Linked DNA regions of Homo sapiens: regions 1 and 3 are each linked to region 2. The links come from fine-mapping of genetic effects on plasma protein levels. A gene starts in region 2. Each other region holds a variant in brackets. All regions are shown on one strand. Distances are between the middles of the regions.

Evidence for each region. PIP is the posterior inclusion probability: the model's chance that the variant is causal. Sun 2018 read protein levels with aptamers (SomaScan).
Region 1: its variant is fine-mapped to the plasma level of the ITIH5 protein (Sun 2018, PIP 0.91).
Region 3: its variant is fine-mapped to the plasma level of the ITIH5 protein (Sun 2018, PIP 0.95). The variant lies in the coding sequence of ITIH5. If it changes the protein, the assay may bind it differently, which can mimic a change of level.

Annotation. Positions count from the first base shown.
Region 1 is chr10:7,562,181-7,571,040 of GRCh38, reverse strand. ITIH5 (inter-alpha-trypsin inhibitor heavy chain 5) reads left to right here. Exons shown (of 14, transcript NM_030569.7): 12 at 1,257-1,373; 13 at 4,634-5,011; 14 at 7,657-8,860. The coding sequence ends at 7,958. Among named protein-coding and RNA genes, the nearest start is that of LINC02642, 94 kb to the right of the region's middle. The variant C/TAC (reference allele first, on the strand shown) is at 5,738.
Region 2 is chr10:7,663,995-7,668,994 of GRCh38, reverse strand. ITIH5 (inter-alpha-trypsin inhibitor heavy chain 5) reads left to right here and starts at 2,029. Exons shown (of 14, transcript NM_030569.7): 1 at 2,029-2,192. The coding sequence starts at 2,103.
Region 3 is chr10:7,577,168-7,582,532 of GRCh38, reverse strand. It overlaps ITIH5 (inter-alpha-trypsin inhibitor heavy chain 5), which reads left to right. Exons shown (of 14, transcript NM_030569.7): 9 at 2,469-2,778. Among named protein-coding and RNA genes, the nearest start is that of ITIH5, 87 kb to the left of the region's middle. The variant C/T (reference allele first, on the strand shown) is at 2,487.

The sequences.
Region 1 (8,860 bases), 100 kb after region 2:
AGTTTGCTGCAGCTTAAAAAGAGTGGACTCTGCCTGGCCCCTGCCTACACCGTGCACAGCGTGCATGCAGACATGTCCATGTGCACAGAAGGCAGAGGGGCATTTGAGAAACAAGTTGTAGGCCGGTGTGGTGGCTCACGCCTGAAATCCCAGCACTTTGGGAGGCTGAGGTGGGTGGAATGCTTGAGCCCAGGAGTTTGAGACCAGCCTGGGCAACATAGTGAGACCCTGTCCCTACAAAAAATAAAAAATTAGCCTGGCATGGTGGCACGTGCCTGTAGTCCCAGCTACTCAGGAGGCTGAGGTGGGAGGACCGTTTGAGCCCAGGAGTTTGAGGCTGCAGTGAGCTCTGATTGCACCACTGTACTCCAGCCTGGTCAACAGAGTGGGACCCTGTCTCAAAAATAAATAAAATAAACAAATTGCACTTGGAATATAAATTAGAGAGAAGGTAAATCTCCAATCTGGTAAGAGAATTGATATAGATTCTCAAGAAATCTTCTGTCTGTATAATAAAAGGCAAGGCTGTTCACCTTTAACAGAGGTGAAAATGAGGAGAACAGATAAGAACTGTCAGCTGAACTTTGCGGTCTCATCTGTGGACAGAAATTTCAGAGCAGTGAAGTCGGAGTGACCCAAAGGAGGGGTTTCCGCCAGCACCCTGACTGTGCGCCTGGCCGCCTACTCGCATTTTGCTTCCCTTGCCTCTGCATCTAAGCTGGGCATGGCTCTCAGTGCCTGCGTGCAGGGGTGGCGTACAGCTGACGCTGCGAATGAGCCTGGGGTAGCCCATGGCTTCCTGGGAGAAGAAGCACCATAGATCTCCCATCATAGGGAGGAAAGTCCTCTGCATCTGTGCCATTAAAGGAGAAAGCAAATAGCAAGGGATGTCCCCCTGGGAAATGGAAGCATGGGGGCTGAGTACCAGTTGAAGGTGTGTGGGGATCTCTCTTTCCTTCTCCTCTCACCTCTCAAAGCTTAGTTGTCTAGACTGAGCTGAGGTGTGTTGAAAGGAGCATTATATTGGAATTTAGAAGACCTGAAGTCAAATGTTTACTGCAAACTCACTGGGTAATTCTGGGGAGTTGTTTCCCTCCCACTCATCTTCCTCATCTGGAAATTGAGGACACCTCCTTCCAGAATAGTTTTCAGGATTCAATAAAATAATTCATGAGAAAATAGAGAGTAGCACCTACACAAGGAAGGTACTGAATAAGTGTCTTTCTTTTTCTCTCCGTTTTCTTCTGCTCTGGCAGTGGATGGTGATCCCCACTTTGTTGTGGATTTCCCCCTGAGCAGACTCACCGTGTGCTTCAACATTGATGGGCAGCCCGGGGACATCCTCAGGCTGGTCTCTGATCACAGGGACTCTGGTAAGTTCTACCTTCCGCTGCAGCATCTGGGCAAGGACCAGGTAGGTACTGCATCCCCCTCTGTTCTTCAGATGGATGTCCAGTGATCCAAGGGCCACCTTACAGACGCTCAGTGAGTATCGTCAGTGGTTAAGGGAAGCGCACTGCGCTCCTGGACTTATGCATCCGACTCCCTGCTTTATGACAAGTGCCGTGTGACCTTGGGCACATGCCTTGGGAGTTGTTTCCCTTGTAAAATGGAGATAGGAACACTCTCTTGGCCTCACAGAGCTAATATAAAATGGATCAAATGAAACTGGTTATGAAGTTGTTTTTTAAATGCTGAAGTGCTTTAGAAATCCGCTATGTAGGCTGGGCGCGGTGGCTCATGCCTGTAATCCCAGCACTTTGGGAGGCCGAGGCAGGTGGATCACCGGAGGTCAGGAGTTCAAGACCAGCTTGGCCAACATGGTGAAACCCCATCTCTACTAAAGTTACAAAAAAATTAGCCCGGCATAGTGGTGGGCACCTGAAATCCCAGCTACTCGGGAGGCTGAGGCAGGAGAATCGCTTGAACCTGGGAGGCAGAGGTTGCAGTGAGCTGAGATCATGCCACTGCACTCCAGCCTGGGTGAAAAGAGCAAGACTCTATCTCAAAAAAAAAAAAAAAAAAAAAAAGAAAAAGAAAAAAAGAAAAGAAAACCACAATATATTATTGTGTATTATTGTCATAGTGTCTATCCATTCAAAAGCTGTGATGCCGGGGAGGCCAAGGTTCTAAACTCATGTCAGTTTCTTGATGACTTACATGGGATGTCACATGTTAATCCACAGTTCTGTCTGTGTGCCGTGAACATGTATGGACAAAGGGGCTCTGTGGCCCCTGTTGGTCTGTAGAGGGCTTGGGTGAAAGAGATTAGCACAGAGAAAGCTTTTCAAGTTCGATGCAGGTAACAAACCATGTCCAGCTCTGTGAGGACAAGCTTTGGAGTGGGCACCCCGGCACTTCCTCACTGCTGAGAACGTGTCTTGGAATGTTGGGTTGCACAGGGTCCCCCAGCAGGTGATATGTGTGATGCAATTATGTAGAGTTTGATCCTGGGGTTCCTTCAACACATGTTTTCTTGTGGGACTTTATAGCCTCAGAGCCAAATCTCTACTGTTTCTTATTTCAAAGGGCTCAGGAGCAAGATAGGGGCCTAACTGTATATGTCCTTGGAAATACCTCCTATTCTGGGAGCAGTTCCCATGGTTTCTGTCTTCAGCGAGATGTCCGTGGTGGGAACTCAGCCTGAAAATGCTTAGAACTTTGAGGCTGGAAGAGCATAGGCTCTTCTCATGCTGGGATTTCTCCTCTCCCCTGACCCCTTGCCCCAGAGAAGGCCCTTTTTTCCTTGAATGTCTAAGAAGTTTTATTGGGAAGATTACTGGGAAGATTGTTCTCAAAGCAGAGAAAACAAGAGTTAATTATATAGCAATCTTTTCTTATTGCAAATTGCTGCTTTGCCTGAGAGCAAAACACATTTAACATGCATCACCTAATTCAGCCCCAAACATCTCAAGTGCAATCGCCATCTGTTTGTTATTCAGCCAGACAGCACGGAACCCTGGGGCCTGGTTCACAGGCCTTGCTCAAGTCCAGAAAAGCCCCAGTGATGTTCATAATGATGAAGAAAAAAAAGGAGTTCTATTTCATAGCAGTTTACAACTTACACACATGCTACCTTCTGGGATCCTCACAAAAATTCTGTTAGGTTTTCCATCTGTCCATCCATTTTACAGATAAGGAAATTGAGGCAGGGTTTTTGTTTTTTTGAGATGTAGTTTCACTCTGTTGCCTAGGCTGCAGTGAAGTGGCACCATCTCAGCTCACTGCAATCTCCACCTCCTGGGTTTAAGTGATTCTCCTGCCTCAGCTTCCCCAGAAACTGGGATTACAGGTTTTTTTTTGACTTGTCTAAGGACAAACACCTAAGTGGAAGAACTTGAGTTTTTGGACAAAAACAAAACAAAAAACAACAACTAAGTTTACATTCTCCCACACTGCTCAGTGGCATCATAAGATGTCTGAGCAAACTATTGCAAGGACAGAAAACCAAACACCGCATGTTCTCACTCATAGGTGGGAATTGAACAATGAGAACACTTGGACACAGGGTGGGGAACATCACATACCAGGGCCTGTCGTGGGGTCAGGGTAGGGGGGCGGGATAGCATGAGGAGATATACCTAATGTAAATGACGAGTTAATGGGTGCAGCACACCAACAGGGCACATGTATACATATGTAACAAACCTGCACGTTGGGCACATGTACTCTAAAACCTAAAGTATAATAATAATAATAATAATAATAATAATAATAATAAAAGATGTCCGAATTAGGATCAGCAGCCTCTGGTAGGTACAAAATATGTATCAGGGTCATATAAGAGTTCTTATCACTACAGCCACACTGGAAGGAAACCAGACGAACATGGTAAGCTGTGTGTAGATGCACAAATACTTAGCTTCATGCCTCCATCTACGATATCTTGACCCAAAACTACATCCTCTCTCCCCTATCCCAACATACTGGTCAGACAACAGTAAAAAATCCGCACATAACTTTACGCATTCCCTCATTTGTTCACTCACTTGGTGACCACTGAGTGACCTCTGTGTGTAAGTCAGACATGTTTTTGGTACTAGAGATACAAAGATAAGCCCAAAGGAGGAGGGAAGTTCTAACTTGATGCGTTGGGCAGGGATAGATTTTCTTTTCTTTTCTTCTTCTTCTTCTTCTTCTTCTTCTTCTTCTTCTTCTTCTTCTTCTTCTTCTTCTTCTTCTTCTTCTTCTTCTTCCTCTTCCTCTTCCTCTTCCTCTTCCTCTTCCTCTTCCTCTTCCTCTTCTTCTTCTTCTTTCTTCTTTCTTCTTTCTTCTTTCTTCTTCTTCTTCTTCTTCTTCTTTTTTTTTTTTTTTTTAATGAGATAGGATCTCACTCTGTAGCCCAGGGTAGACTGCAGTGGTGCAATCACAGATCACTGCAGCCTTGAACTCCTGGCCTCAAGGGAACTCCTGGGCTCAAGTGAACTAGCTGGGACTACAGGCTTGCACCACTATGCTCAGCTAATTGTTTATTTTTAGTAGAGATGGGGTCTCTGTGTTGCCCAGGCTGGTCTTGAACTCCTGGACTCAGGCAATCCACCTGCCCTGGCCTTCTAAGTGCTGGGATTACAGGTGTGAGCCACCACTCCTGGTCAGATTTTCTAACCTTCTTCTTTTCCCCTTGGCCTTTGAGGTGTCACAGTGAACGGAGAGTTAATTGGGGCACCCGCCCCTCCAAATGGCCACAAGAAACAGCGCACTTACTTGCGCACTATCACCATCCTCATCAACAAGCCAGAGAGATCTTATCTCGAGATCACACCGAGCAGAGTCATCTTGGATGGTGGGGACAGACTGGTGCTCCCCTGCAACCAGAGTGTGGTGGTGGGGAGCTGGGGGCTGGAGGTGTCCGTGTCTGCCAACGCCAATGTCACCGTCACCATCCAGGGCTCCATAGCCTTTGTCATCCTCATCCACCTCTACAAAAAGCCGGCGCCCTTCCAGCGACACCACCTGGGTTTCTACATTGCCAACAGCGAGGGCCTTTCCAGCAACTGCCACGGACTGCTGGGTAGGAAGCTGCGCTCTCCTCACGCTGGGCATAGAGGGCAGAGTTACATTTCCCAAGCAAAGCTGATATTGCCAACACCTTTCGTTTGATTGAGAAATTCAATAGGAATGTGGTTTTCATTATATATACAGTCCGCATATGTATGTATGTATGTGTGTGTGTACATATATATAGTCTATACATATATACATATACATAATGTATTATATACTATACATATATATGTATATATGTATTATATATAGTCTGTATGTATGCATATGTGTACATGCAGACTGCATATGTGTATATAGTCTCTCTATATAAATACATAATATATATTATATATGCAGTCTGTATATGTATGTGTATATGGTCTGTATATGTATGTGTGTGTATATATATACAGTCTATACATATATACATATACATAATGTATTATATATTATAAATATACATGTATATATGTATTATATATACCGTCTGTATGTATATATGTATACACAGACTGATAAGTATGTATATATACAGTCTATATATGCACACATATACATAATATATAATCAGTCTGTATATGTACATATGTATGTCTGTGTGTATATATACACAGTCTATGTGTATATATGTATGTATACTGTCTATGTATGTGTGCATGATATGTGTGTATATATACATACATAGTCTGTGTATGTATATATATATGTATACCATCTTTGTATGTGTGATGTGTGTGTGTATATATATATA[C/TAC]AGTCTGTATGTATGGTGTGTGTATATATGTACAGTCTGTGTATATGTGTATATGTATGTATACACTCTGTGTATATATGTATGTATGATGTGTGTGTATGTGTGTGTATATATATATATATAGCCTGTGTATGTATGTGTGTTTATATATACAGTCTGTATGTATGTATGGTGTGTGTATATATACACAGTCTGTATATGTATGTGTGTGTGTGTGTGTATATATATATATACAGTCTATGTGTGTATATATGTATATATATATACAGTCTATGTATGTATATATGTATATATGTAGGTATACAGTCTATATGTATGAACGTGTGTGTATATGTATATGTATGTATACAGTCTGTGTATGTATGGTGTGTGTATATATATATATATACACACACAGTCTGTATATGTATGTATGTGTGTGTGTATACATATACAGTCTGTGTATGTATGTATATATGTATGTATGTATACAGTCTATGGTGTGTGTGTGTATATATACACACAGTCTGTATATATGTGTGTGTGTACACATACACAGTCTGTGTATGTATGTACATATTATATATATTCACACCCACCGACACACACAGTCATGCCTTGCTTAATGACAGGGATACATTCTAATGGTCGTTAGGTGATTTGGTCATTACGTGACCATCTAGAATATCCTTACACAAACCTCTCTAGATAGTGTCGCATACTACCCACTCAGCTAGGCTATGTGGTGTCTCCTATTGCTCCCGGGCTGCAAACCTGTACAGCATGTGACTGCATGGACTACTGCAGGCAATTGCAACACGATGATAAGTATTTGTTCATCTAAACATATCTAGACATAGAAAAGGTACACTAAAAATATGCTATTATAATCTTATGGGACCACCATCATATTTTCAGTCCATCATTGATTAAAATGTCATGATGTGGTGCATGACTATATATGTAACATGAAAATTACATATGTAATATGAAAATTCGATTACTATATATGTAATATGAACATTAGATTACTACATATGTAATATGAAAATTAGATTCCTTCCTGGGCTTTGTGAGCTAGGAATGGGCTTTATAAACCAGTAGTTCTCTTTAGCCTTCTGGAAAAATGAATGAGGAATTAAAATGTAGTCACCTGAGGGTCCAGTTCCTTTGCTCTCAGCAAGAATACACAGACACGAGGCAGCCCTGCCCAGCGCCCAGCCTGAGCGACACCCCCACCGGGGGGGCACCCACGTGGCCGTGCCCAGCAGGCGGGCCATTCTACCCAGCTTTCTTCAACGTGTAATTTCATGTGGGCCCCTTGCCCAAAAATAAAGAGCAAGCCATTGTCAGGGTTCAGTTTAGTAGGCAGGATTTCCTGGCTCTTGAGCTGGCCGCGTTTCGTGGGGCCTGGCGGCCCAGCATGAGCTCCCCTTGCAGACACAGCTCTTTATTCCTGTGGCCTGAGCAGTGCTGCCATCTGACCAGGAGAGTCCTGAGGACGAGGGTCAGAGAGGATCTGAGCTGACTGCTTTCCACCCCCACCCGGCACAGACCTGAGACGGATAGAAAGGAGGCGGGCCTGTGACTGGGAAGAGGACAGAGAGAAGATGGAACACTACTTCCCTCTTCATATGCCCCGTCCTGTCCTCTGGACTCAGTAGGAGACCGTGGTTATCACTATGTGTAGGTTACACAACTTTCTAGTGTTAGCAGCTGGGAAGCTTCCAGCAGTCATGGGTAAATCCCACAATGTGGATAAATCCTCAGCTCTCTCCACCCTGCCCCCCAGAGCACATGTTCTTCCATGTCACTGGGAGAGTCCAGTCTCGGGCTGTGGCCAGTTGTAAGCCTTTCTGCCACTGATAGCTCTGAAGTTGGAGTTCAGCACGAGGTTTCTGCATTTGACTGAGACCCGATGCTTTTCCTTGTCCTCCCAGGTCAGTTCCTGAATCAGGATGCCAGACTCACAGAAGACCCTGCAGGGCCCAGCCAGAACCTCACTCACCCTCTGCTCCTTCAGGTGGGAGAGGGGCCTGAGGCCGTCCTAACAGTGAAAGGCCACCAAGTCCCAGTGGTCTGGAAGCAAAGGAAGATTTACAACGGGGAAGAGCAGATAGACTGCTGGTTTGCCAGGAACAATGCCGCCAAACTGATTGACGGGGAGTACAAGGATTACCTGGCATCCCATCCATTTGACACAGGGATGACACTTGGCCGGGGAATGTCCAGGGAGCTCTGAAGCTGGCAGCCTTAAAGATGCAAGTGCATGAAGGACAGTGATGTGGGGAGGCCGTGGGGCAGCTCTTTTCATGGCTTGTACACGCCTCAGCTCCTGGCAATTAGCTGGACTCCATGACCCACCCCTGGTGCAGCATAGATCCGACGTCTGTCTGGGCGAAGGGTAGGGGTGGGTAGGGGCGGGAAGCCTGAGTGCAAATGTCATTTCCCTCTACTGCCTCTTCCTGCCTCTCCCCACCCTGCCCACATCCACAGAGGGGAGAGAAGGGTCATAGCTAAATGCAACAAAGTCTGTATCTTGTCCCAACCTGCTTTTCTGTTCTGTTAGCATATCATAAAGTAAGCCTTTCTGGTGAAGGAAGGTTGCTATGAAACTTTTTTTCTTGGTGGAAATGGACAAGTTTAGGCACTCTGCTTTTTGCCTTACACTAATGCTTAGAAAGCTGTCTTTTCAGTGGTGTTGCAGCCCCCAGATGTGTGGCCAACCTCTGCTGCAAAGGAATCTCTTGCTGAGTCCAGGCCACCAATCAGGCAAATAGCCCATACATTTGATCGTTGTAAACCATGAAGTCTTTTCTTGCAAGACGTTTTTCTTCTGCTGTGGTATCTTGCCCTTAAAAATTAGTTTTCATTAAAAAGAAATTTGATTGAAAATAGAAACATCTACAGCTCAGATACTGATCTCTTTCTAATGGGCTTTGTAAACCACTTGACTTTGCTAATGGCTATTCTCCAATTTGTTCCAATAAGCTAAGGGCTTTTCATACACAGGACAACTCCATGTGGTTGATTTTACTGGCATGTCTTGGTGACGAAGAGTTGGCCAAGTGAATGATGCATCTTTTACTTGGAGCTCTCCAGCCTTTGTCATAGTTCCCAGACCTTTTTTCCTTGTGGTCATCC
Region 2 (5,000 bases):
GGCTTTGTCCAATTCAACTTCTGGTTCACAAATAGTTACTTTCCTCTGGAGGGAAAAATAACCGGCTACAGTTGTTTCTTATTGGTTGCATGCTGACTAGTGGTTAGGCTATTAAAGGATTAACTGCTGATGACAATAATTTTCCTTTCATTTATTTCACAGTAGCAAGGTGTTTGTTTTTAACCTCTCCTAATTCATTAAACAAAGAGCATTTCAACAAGAATAGATATTTTCGAGGATCTCACCACAAACTAACCTACCCACTGCTTTTATTTTTCATGTTTTTTTTTTCTAGTTATGTCCCTCCATATGTATTTCTACCTAATTGCAATCATACTGTTGATACGATTTGGTGATGTGATTTTCTCTTTAGATTACACTGTCAACATTCTCCATGTTTCTGGAGACGTCGCACGATTATTTAATGGCCCCATAGTAACCTGCATGGAATAGTATTCTCTATTCCATGGTCCGAAGTTAGCCCCTTCCCTGTTCTTGGTCCTTAAAGGGTCTGTCACTCACCTCACCTATTTAGATGAAATTATCACAGAGACATAAAAAACATCCTTTGCAACATGAAATAAACAAGTAGCCCCAACTGCAATGTGTATCACCAGATAAAAAAGACGCACTCAGCCTGTAGAAGGCCAGGTGTGGACGGCTGGTGGGTAAGAATTCTTCCAATGGCAGGATGGAAGTATCACCAATAGTTTGTAACTAAGATACATACTGGCACTCACTTACATGATTAATAACCAGAAACTCAGAAATACTACACGCTACCAAGATACTTCCCTCGTCTCCTCTGTTTCCTTAGAACATAAAGGCTGGCAGCCTTGCTAGTCCCTCCTGCGCTAGACTGCAGGTAGTATCCTTTGTCCTGCCTATTAAGCGTCCCTGGCCAATGCAGAGGGGACGATCTGCCGGCTTCAGGCTGGCAGGTGCGGGGTGGGCTGTGTGCTGAGGACCAGGCTGGCCTTCTCGCGTCCTCTGGCGACAGAAATTAAGCAAGTCCGCAAAGAAGCATATTGCACCTTGAGGGAGAGGAAGAAAGAGTTGCGGGGGCGCGTGGGGTAGGGCCCGGGAGGCAGTGGGTGTTGGCAAGAAACGGAGTAGGAGGCTCTACAGAGGAGACTGGTCCTTGGTTAAGTGTCACAGCCGCAGGATGGGAGGGTGTGGGAGGGGTCCGTGGGGCCAACACAGGTGGCCCCTGCTGTGCGCGGCGAGGCAGGCTTGGAATGCCTTCTCCCCGAACAGAGCTAGCCCAGCACTGGGGGCTGGAGGCGCGGCTCTGGTGGGACTGAGGCCGGGAAGCGGCGCCGGGCGGGGTGGGGACTGGGGAGGAGGCGGGGCTGGTGTGGGGGCCACAGGGAGGCGGGCCGGGTTTAAGGGGGTGGCTGTAGGTGGGGTCTGGGAAGTTGGCCTCGGTGGGGACAGGGACAGGAGAGGTGGGGCCGGGACTGGGGAGGTGGGGGGAAATGGGGGCGTGGAGAAACGGAGCTTGGGGTTGGGGACCTGGGGAAGCTGGGTCCTGACTGGGGACAGGGAGGCGAGGCCGGGCTTGGGGGGTGTCCAGGGAGGCAGGGTGTGGGAAGGTCTGGGGCGGGGAAGTGGGGTCTGGGCTGGGGTGGGAGAGTTGGAGTCCAGAAGGGGACCGCGGGGTGGAAGGGGTCCGGGCTGGGACCGGGGTAGGCGGAGTCCAGGAGGGGACGCAGGGTGGGCGGGGTCCGGGCTGGGTCCGTGGGGTGGGCGGGGTCCGGGCTGGGACGCGGGGTGGGCGGGGTCCGGGCTGGGTCCGTGGGGTGGGCGGGGTCCGGGCTGGGTCCGTGGGGTGGGCGGAGTCCAGGAGGGGACCGCAGGGTGGGCGGGGTCCGGGCTGGGTCCGTGGGGTGGGCGGGGTCCGGGCTGGGTCCGTGGGGTGGGCGGGGTCCGGGCTGGGACCGCGGGGTGGGCGGGGTCCGGGCTGGGTCCGTGGGGTGGGCGGGGTCCGGGCTGGGACCGCGGGGTGGGCGGCCCCGAGAGCGTCCCGCAGTGGCTGGAGCCCTGGGCGCTGCAAAGCGTGTCCCGCCGGGTCCCCGAGCGTCCCGCGCCCTCGCCCCGCCATGCTCCTGCTGCTGGGGCTGTGCCTGGGGCTGTCCCTGTGTGTGGGGTCGCAGGAAGAGGCGCAGAGCTGGGGCCACTCTTCGGAGCAGGTAAGTGGAGCCGAGGGGAGCCGGGTCCCGGGCGCGGCCGCCCCCTTCCCTCCGCCGGCCCGGCCGCGGAGCTTCTGCCCGGGCCCCCTTCGACCGTCTCCCAGGCCCCCACCAGAGGCCCAGGGGTCCCTCTCTGTGGGTCACTCGTGCGTCACCTCTGTGTGAGCCGCGGTGCCTGATCTGGCCTGAGGCTTCCTGCAGAACTGTGCCCGGGACTTGTCCTGCGGAGCCGAGTTTTTCTTCTTGGCTCCTGTTGATTGCGCAGATTTCTGTTCGTCGTTGTTAATTTCTGAGGTAGCTCCAAAAGTTATTATAATTACAAGGTTTTTTCCTTATCACGCGTGGGGGGCAGTCTGCTGTTATCATCATTCCCAGTTGATCCAGGGAGAAAGGCAATATGAGAGGAGTTCTAGACTCCTGGGAGCCTCAGCTTTTCCCACCTGAAAACCGGGAGAACACGACTTTCCCATTTAGCGACTACCTACCGGTGGTTTAGCATTTAAAGGTGGCACCGAGAGCCAAAGCGTCTGAGTTCCTCGAGTTGCTGGTCTGTGCGTTTGTCAGGATTTGTGTTTCAAATGTCTTAACCTCGCAGGCGAATAAAACCTGCAAATATGAAATGTCAATAAAATGATGAATAGAGCATTTTTGTCTTTAAAAAGTATGAAGCGGGTTCACACAAATAGCATTGAGAGCTAATGTGCAACATGGCCCTGTCACAAAGTAGAAGTGCTTTCACACACATGCCATTTAAATATTTAAGCCGTTTAGCTTCCAGCGTGTTTGTGCACGGTGGGAGGAAGATACAAGTAGGCGGACCTTTTCTCCCTTTTCCAGCCCCTGTTTTGAAGAGCAGTTTTGAAGCCCAACTGCCTAAATATGAAGACAGTTATCTTCATGTTCTCTGTCCTGTGAATGTGCTTAACAGTAAAGTGGTAGTAATGATACTTCCTTCTAGGGGGGGAGTAGCTAATAAAATCCCAGGAGGCATCGTAGTGATGTTGGAAAAGTGCAGGCTTTGGATGCAGAGACAGGCTGGGCTTTAGTTGTGTGTTCCGGGCAAGCCCTTTAATCTCTCAGAGCCTTCATGTCCTCGTTGGTCAGGGCAGGGAATGCGGCTCTTTTTGAGCAAACTTGCAAGGACTCAGCTAATTTGTGTTAAGCACCTGGTATACAGTGGACGCTCAATAACTGGGAGATGTTTTAGTAGATGGCTGAAGGCATGGGCTTGGTACCAGGATGTCTGGGACCACTTGATTCTTGATTCTGTCACTTATCAGCTCTGGGACCCTGATCAAGTGCCTTTCGGCCTTATATTCCTCTTCTGTGAAATGTGGAGAAATGATAGGGTTGTGAGGACTGAATGCATTATGACACCCAAGTGCTTAAAACACTGTCAGCACTTAATGCTGGCCATGGTCTTAGACTCATGCTGCTGACATGCTGAGTGAAGGAATTTAGGGTAAAGATCTTGAAACTTTTTTGGGGGTGTGGAGACAGGACAGTGTGGGATGGACTGAAACAAAGATTCTGTGTCTGAACTAGGAAGGCTGTTTAAACTCTAGCATATACCAAGTTCAAGTAGGCTTCACAGTCTATGGACTTGCTGTCATAAAAAAACATGGCTTGACCTCTTTTAGTGATTTCATGCTGTCTTCAACCCAGCACAATATTTATTTATCTTGAAAATGACTAAATCAGGAAAAAAAATCCAAGGTATAAAGTTCTATGAACTTGCAATTTTACCTTTTATCCCTAATCCGTTCTTTTTTATATTTAGTTTTTGTGATATAGGGTTTGAGAGCATAGGCTTTAGCACCAGAATTCTGGGTTCAAATCTTGGCTCTGCACTTACTGAGGAGTTACTTAACGTTTGTGAGCCTCTATCTCTGTATGGGGATGATGCAATTACTTAGGATTTTGAAAAGTGAAACAATTAATATACTTAAATCTTAGAACAGAACCTGGGAATGTAATGAGCACTCTATTCTCAATCATTATGGTCTTTAAAATTGTATGTAAACTTAATTTGAAAAATGTAAGTCTATGCAAATCTTATGCAAATTTTAATATAGCTGAATATGACTATTAACTTGCATTGCAGTTATTTGTCATTCACCTGTAATTGGAAATATACCAGTAACACCTTAGATTCAAGTTCCTTCACCTCTCACCCTTCACCCCATCTGTAGACAGTGGGTACTCAGTAACCCATAGTGGAATGACTCCTAAAAGCAGTGGTTTTCACCCTTGGGGTGGAAAAAGTCACTTGGGGTGTTCATTAAACATTCAGCTTCCTGAGTTCCACTTCCATTGGTTTAGATCCATTGGGTTTGGGATGGGGCGCAGATGATTCTGATGCAGGTGGTCCATGGAACACATTTTAGTTTTTTTTTTTTTTTTGAGACGGAATCTCGCTGTGTCGCCCAGGCTGGAGTGCAGTGGCAGGCTCTCTGCTCTCTGCAACCTCTGGCTCCTGGGTTCAAGTGATTCTCATGCCTCAGCCTCCCAAGCAGATGGGATTACAGGTGCACTCCACCATGCCTGGCTAATTTTTGTATTTTTAATAGAGACAAAAATACATCACGTTGGCCAGGCTGGTCTCAAACTCCTGAGCTCAAGTGATCCACCTGCCCTGGCCTCCCAAAGTGCTGGGATTACAGGCATAAGCCACTGTGCCTAGCCGCACACTTTGAATAGTAGTATTTTTAAAGGATATTTTGGGAAATTAGTATTTAAAAGAAAATCCCTTGTATAAAAACTGTCTGCTACAGACTTATCTGTTTTGTTAGCTTAAATTTATATGGT
Region 3 (5,365 bases), 87 kb after region 2:
AAATCATGAATTGGACACTTAGAATGGGTGATCTTTTGGTATGTAGATTTTATCTTAAGCCATTTTAAAAAAAAAACAAAGGAAATAGGTGTTCACACTACAGTAAGGTCTCTGCTTTACTTGGTAATGGTGGGATGTTGGTAGCTTAGTCCAGTGGAATTCTTAGCTAACCCAGAAACCTCACTGTAGCTGGGGTTTCAACCTCAACCACCCAACCACCTGTCTCCCCATCCACCAAACAAATACTTGTTCAGCTCCTATCAAAGACACAGGCCCCAACTTTATTTATTTATTTTGCTCCCAAACTTAAATTGTCTGATTTATTTTAATCATAAAGTAGTAAATTTAAGAATACATGGGGCCAGGTGCTGTGGCCCCTGCCAGTAATCCCAGCACTTTGGAGGCCGAGGCGGGCAGATCACAAGGTCAGGAAATCAAGACCAGCCTGGCCAACATGGTGAAACCCGTCTCTACTAAAAAAGTACAAAAATTAGCCAGGCATGGTGGCGTGTGCCTGTAATCCCAGCTACTCGGGAGGCTGAGGCAGGAGAATTGCTTGAACACAGGAGGCAGAGGTTGCAGTGAGCCAAGATCACGCCACTGCATTCCACCTTGGGCGAAAGAGCATGACTATATCTCAAAAAAAAAAAAAAAAAAAAAAATACATGGGTGGCCGGGCATGGTGGCTCATGCCTGTAGTCCCAGCACTTTGGGAGGTTGAGGTGGGAGAACTGCTTGAGCCCAGGAGTTCGAGACCAGCCTGGGCAACATAGTGAGACCCTGTCTCTAAAAAAAAAAAAAAAAAAAAAAAGAAGGAAAAGAAAAGAAAACATGGGAACATTCTTTTTAAAGGAAGCAGTAACCTGTAGTGTAACATACATGCAGAAAAATGTACATGTAGTAAGTGTACAACTTGATATGTTTTCATAAACTGAACAGAACCTGGACCCAGATCAAGAAACAGAACATTTAGAACTCCAGAAGCCTGCTCATGTTCTCACACCATTTTTTCCATGGAAGTATCTATTCTAAAACATTTGAGGAATAAAGAAAATCATCAAAAGAAAAAAAGGAGAGAAAAACCTCCTGCTGTCCACAGATGCCTGCTAATGTCATTGGTGTTTATTGTTCCATCATTTCTCAGAGTTGAGATTTGTTTTCTGTTTCGTATGGTTTTTCTAAGCCACATATTCCTGATAAAATTTTTCTTCCCTTTCGCCCCCAACTTTATTTTATTTATTCATTTATTTATTTTATTTTTATTTTTTCTGTTGAGACCGCGTCTCACTCTGTTTCCCAGGCTGGAGTGCAATGGCACGATCTTGGCTCACTGCAACTTCCGTCTTCTGGGTTCAAGTGATTTTCTGACCTTAGCCATCCGAGTAGCTGGGATTACAGGCATGTACCACCATGCCCGGCTAATTTTTGTATTTTTGGTAGAGACAGGGTTTTGCCATGTTAGCGAGGCTGGTCTCGAACTCCTGACCTCAGGTGATCCACCCACCTTGGCCTCCCAGAGTGCTGGGATTACAGGCATGAGCCACCGTGCCTGGCTGGCCTCCAACTTTAATCAGAGCTGTTGCTGACAAGGGCCTCTGAAGGAAAAAGGGTGGCCAGGAGGAGAAATATTTCATGGCTCCTTTCTCTGTGGGGTTCTGGCAAGCAGAGGTGATCTGAAGGGACAGGAAGCAAAGAAAGGAGAGACGATGAAGGCAACAAATTCATTCTTTCATCAGCTCCACCTAGCCCTAGACAACACTGGAAGGCATCTGAGATGTCAGCAGCTACCCTCCTCCTCTTCGTTCCATGCCCCTCCTCCCCTCTGCGGCTCTTTCTCCCTCCACATTCCTGCTGTCTTCTATGCTCAACACCTTCCTGCTCTTTTCAAAGCCATTCTCAGAAGAGGGCACAGAAGCCATTGAAGCTCAGGTAAGCTAAGGCGTCGCCACATGCCTTCTGGAGAAGGTTTGTTACAGTGGGATAATCCCCATTCACTTATATGCATTTAGTAAATGCACTTGCTTTTAGCAAGTTTCTGGATGGCCCCTTAACACCTCACTCCTGTGAGCATTTGGGTGGTTGAGCGTGAACTGCAGCTATGAAAGTGCATTCAGGCTGGGCATGGTGGCTCATGCCTGTGATTCCAGCACTTTGGGAGGCCAAGGTGGGCGGATTACTTGAGGTCAGGAGTTTGAGACCAGCCTGGCCAACATGGTCAATCCCATCTCTACTAAAAATACAAAAATTAGCCAGATGTGGTGGTGTGCACCTGTAATCCCAGCTACTCGGGAGGCTGAGGCGGGAGAATCGCTTGAACCTGGGAGGCGGAGGTTGCAGTGAGTGCAGATTGCGCCATTGCACTCCAGCCTGGGTGACAGAGCAAGACTCCGTCTCAAAAAAAAGAAAGTGCAATCAGAGTGCGGAGGTGAGTGCAGAGGCTTGAGCTGTTCCGTGTTGGTGTCCTGCAGGCACAGACATCAACGGGG[C/T]CCTGCAGAGGGCCATCAGGCTCCTCAACAAGTACGTGGCCCACAGTGGCATTGGAGACCGGAGCGTGTCCCTCATCGTCTTCCTGACGGATGGGAAGCCCACGGTCGGGGAGACGCACACCCTCAAGATCCTCAACAACACCCGAGAGGCCGCCCGAGGCCAAGTCTGCATCTTCACCATTGGCATCGGCAACGACGTGGACTTCAGGCTGCTGGAGAAACTGTCGCTGGAGAACTGTGGCCTCACACGGCGCGTGCACGAGGAGGAGGACGCAGGCTCGCAGCTCATCGGGTCTGTGGTCTGTCTTCGTAGGCATGAGAGGCTGTTTGAGGGGCTGAGGGGTGGCTGCGGTGGGAATTCAGAGAGGAGTGTGTTGCTGCACCCCAGCCTTGCATCTGCTGACAACGATCATAGCTCATTGCAATGGGAGGTGTCACCATGTGTTTTGAAACTAGGCAGATCAGAGTTCGAATTCTGATCCTCCTTTATGACTTTAGGCAAGATTTTTTTTTTTTTTCTTGTGATGGAGTTTCGCTCTTGTTGCCCAGGCTGCAATGCAATGGCGTGATCTCAGCTCACTGCAACCTCTGCTTCCTGGGTTCAAGCAATTCTCTTGCCTCAGCCTCCTGAGTAGCTGGGACTACAGTCACACACCACCACGCCTGGCTAATTTTGTATTTTTAGTAGAGACAAGGTTTCTCCATGTTGGTCAGGCTGGTCTCGAACTCCTGACCTCAGGTGATCTGCCCGCCTTGGCCTCCCAAAGTACTGGGATTATGGGCGTGAGCCACCACACCCGGCCCTAAGCAAGATTTTAAGACAGTCTGTACCTCCGTTTTCTCATCTGTAAAATGAGGATTATGGTTGGTTGCAGAATTTAATGAGAAAATCGCTATATAAAAACACTATGTATAGCACTGGCACAGTGGCCATCCCATATTAAGTATTTAATGAGCTCTCATAGTTCATTGACATCCTGATATTTCAAAGCACTTTCTAGTAAGTTTACTTTTATTCTACCCTGTGAGCAAGTAGCAGAGTACTGTTATGTTCATTTTGAGTACTAGTTAAAAGATACTTTTATTTGGAAGCAAAACCATCAGATAAAACTGTTAAATAATCAGATTATTTTGAGGTGGAGAATAAATGAGATCTTTTAAATGAGAGATGGAGAAAACTCAGATCTTTTAAAACAGAAATAGCTTCCCTCCGATATTATGTTGCCACGCATCAGTCTGCTCCTTTGCTGTTCATTGAGTGAAGTGCCAGCTCCCAGTTCAGCGTGAGGTGCTTTAATCTGCATCGTGGCATATGTGGTATCTACTTAAAAGCAAAGGGGAGGTTTGGGTAGATTTATAGGTGTTTAATAGCCATAGTCAAAGCACATTTATTAATGATAAATGGAAATGGAGACACCTAAGGTGTGCAGTAAAGACAGGTCCTCGGTTTGGGATTCGCCACCGTTTCCTCCCACGCATTTTAATGAAAGATTTAAATGAAAACACAGATTTGCTTTCCACATTTTAAAAATTATTCAAAACTAGAGTCAAAGGGGAGAATCTGATACACTGGATAACAGAATTGAAATTCAATAAGGCATTCAGAAGCAAAAGCAGTTATGCTGTAACAAGTCAGCTGCACTGCCATCCCACTGAAACTATGATCGATACCTGGCATTTATGAGAACTTATGATACACCAGGAACTTCGATGTGCATCATCCCAGATGATCCTCACAGAAATCCTAGGAGGTAGGTGTATTAGGGTAAAGGCTAAGCTGCAATACAGAGATGATGAAAGGCAAAGGCTGAAATAAGATAGCCATTTCCTTCCCTCTCCTGTAATGGTAACAGGCTAGATCCTGCTCCCAGAAGTCATTCAGGGACCCAAGCTCCTTCTGTTTTATTGCTCTGCTTCCCTCAGGTGTTGTCCTTAATGCTACAGGATTGAAATTCAGTCACTATCACTCTTGTTTTCTAGCCGCAAAAAGGGAGAGAGAAAAGAAAGCCAGCATGGATTGTAAGCAAATATTGAGAAGTTGCACATCTCACTGCTACCCATATTCCATTGGGAGGACATAGTCACATAGCCATTTGTGGCCTCGATGGAGGCTGGGAAATGTAGTTTGTAGCTGGATGGCCGGAGCTCAATTCTCATGAAAGAAGGGGAAAATGGACTTTCAGGGACAGCTAGTAGGTGACCAAAGAAGTACTGTTTACATCCTGATTTTCTAGATAAGGAAACTCAAGTTCAGAGAGGTTAAGTCACATGTCCCAAGACACACAGCAAGGAAGCAACAGAGATGGAAGTCTAACTCCACAGCCTATGGTTTCTAGGCCTTTTGAAAGGGAATTTTAATTGTCTCCTTACTTAGCAAGAAGCGACCATGCAACTTAACTACAAGGAAAGCAAATGCAAGCAAATGTTATACGCACAAACTCACGAAAGTCAGGTTTCTGAAGTAGAATGCGCTGCTTAAAGCACATCTGGAATTTGTATTTGGTTCTAAGAAAAAGGTTTTTAAGAGTCCCTTTAAGAAACGTAAGTGTACACAAAGGAAATTTACCAAGACTGGTGAGGGAATCTTGAAATTGTATCACAGGAAGAATAGTTCATGAAACTGGGGATTGACTGGGCTTAAAGGAATGCACAGCATTGTTTTTTAAGCATCCAAATGTCTGTTGAAATGGATTACACTAATTCGATATTGTTCCAGAGGCAAAACTGAAACCAGTGGGTGGAAATTTCAGGGAGGAAGATTTTAATCTACTATAAGCAGGTTTTTTCTCATCATGAGAGTGGTTGAAAAACAGCTCAGAAGCCGCGTGAGAGAATGCATTCCCTCTCACCAATGGTGTTCAACCTGCTGCCTAGTGATC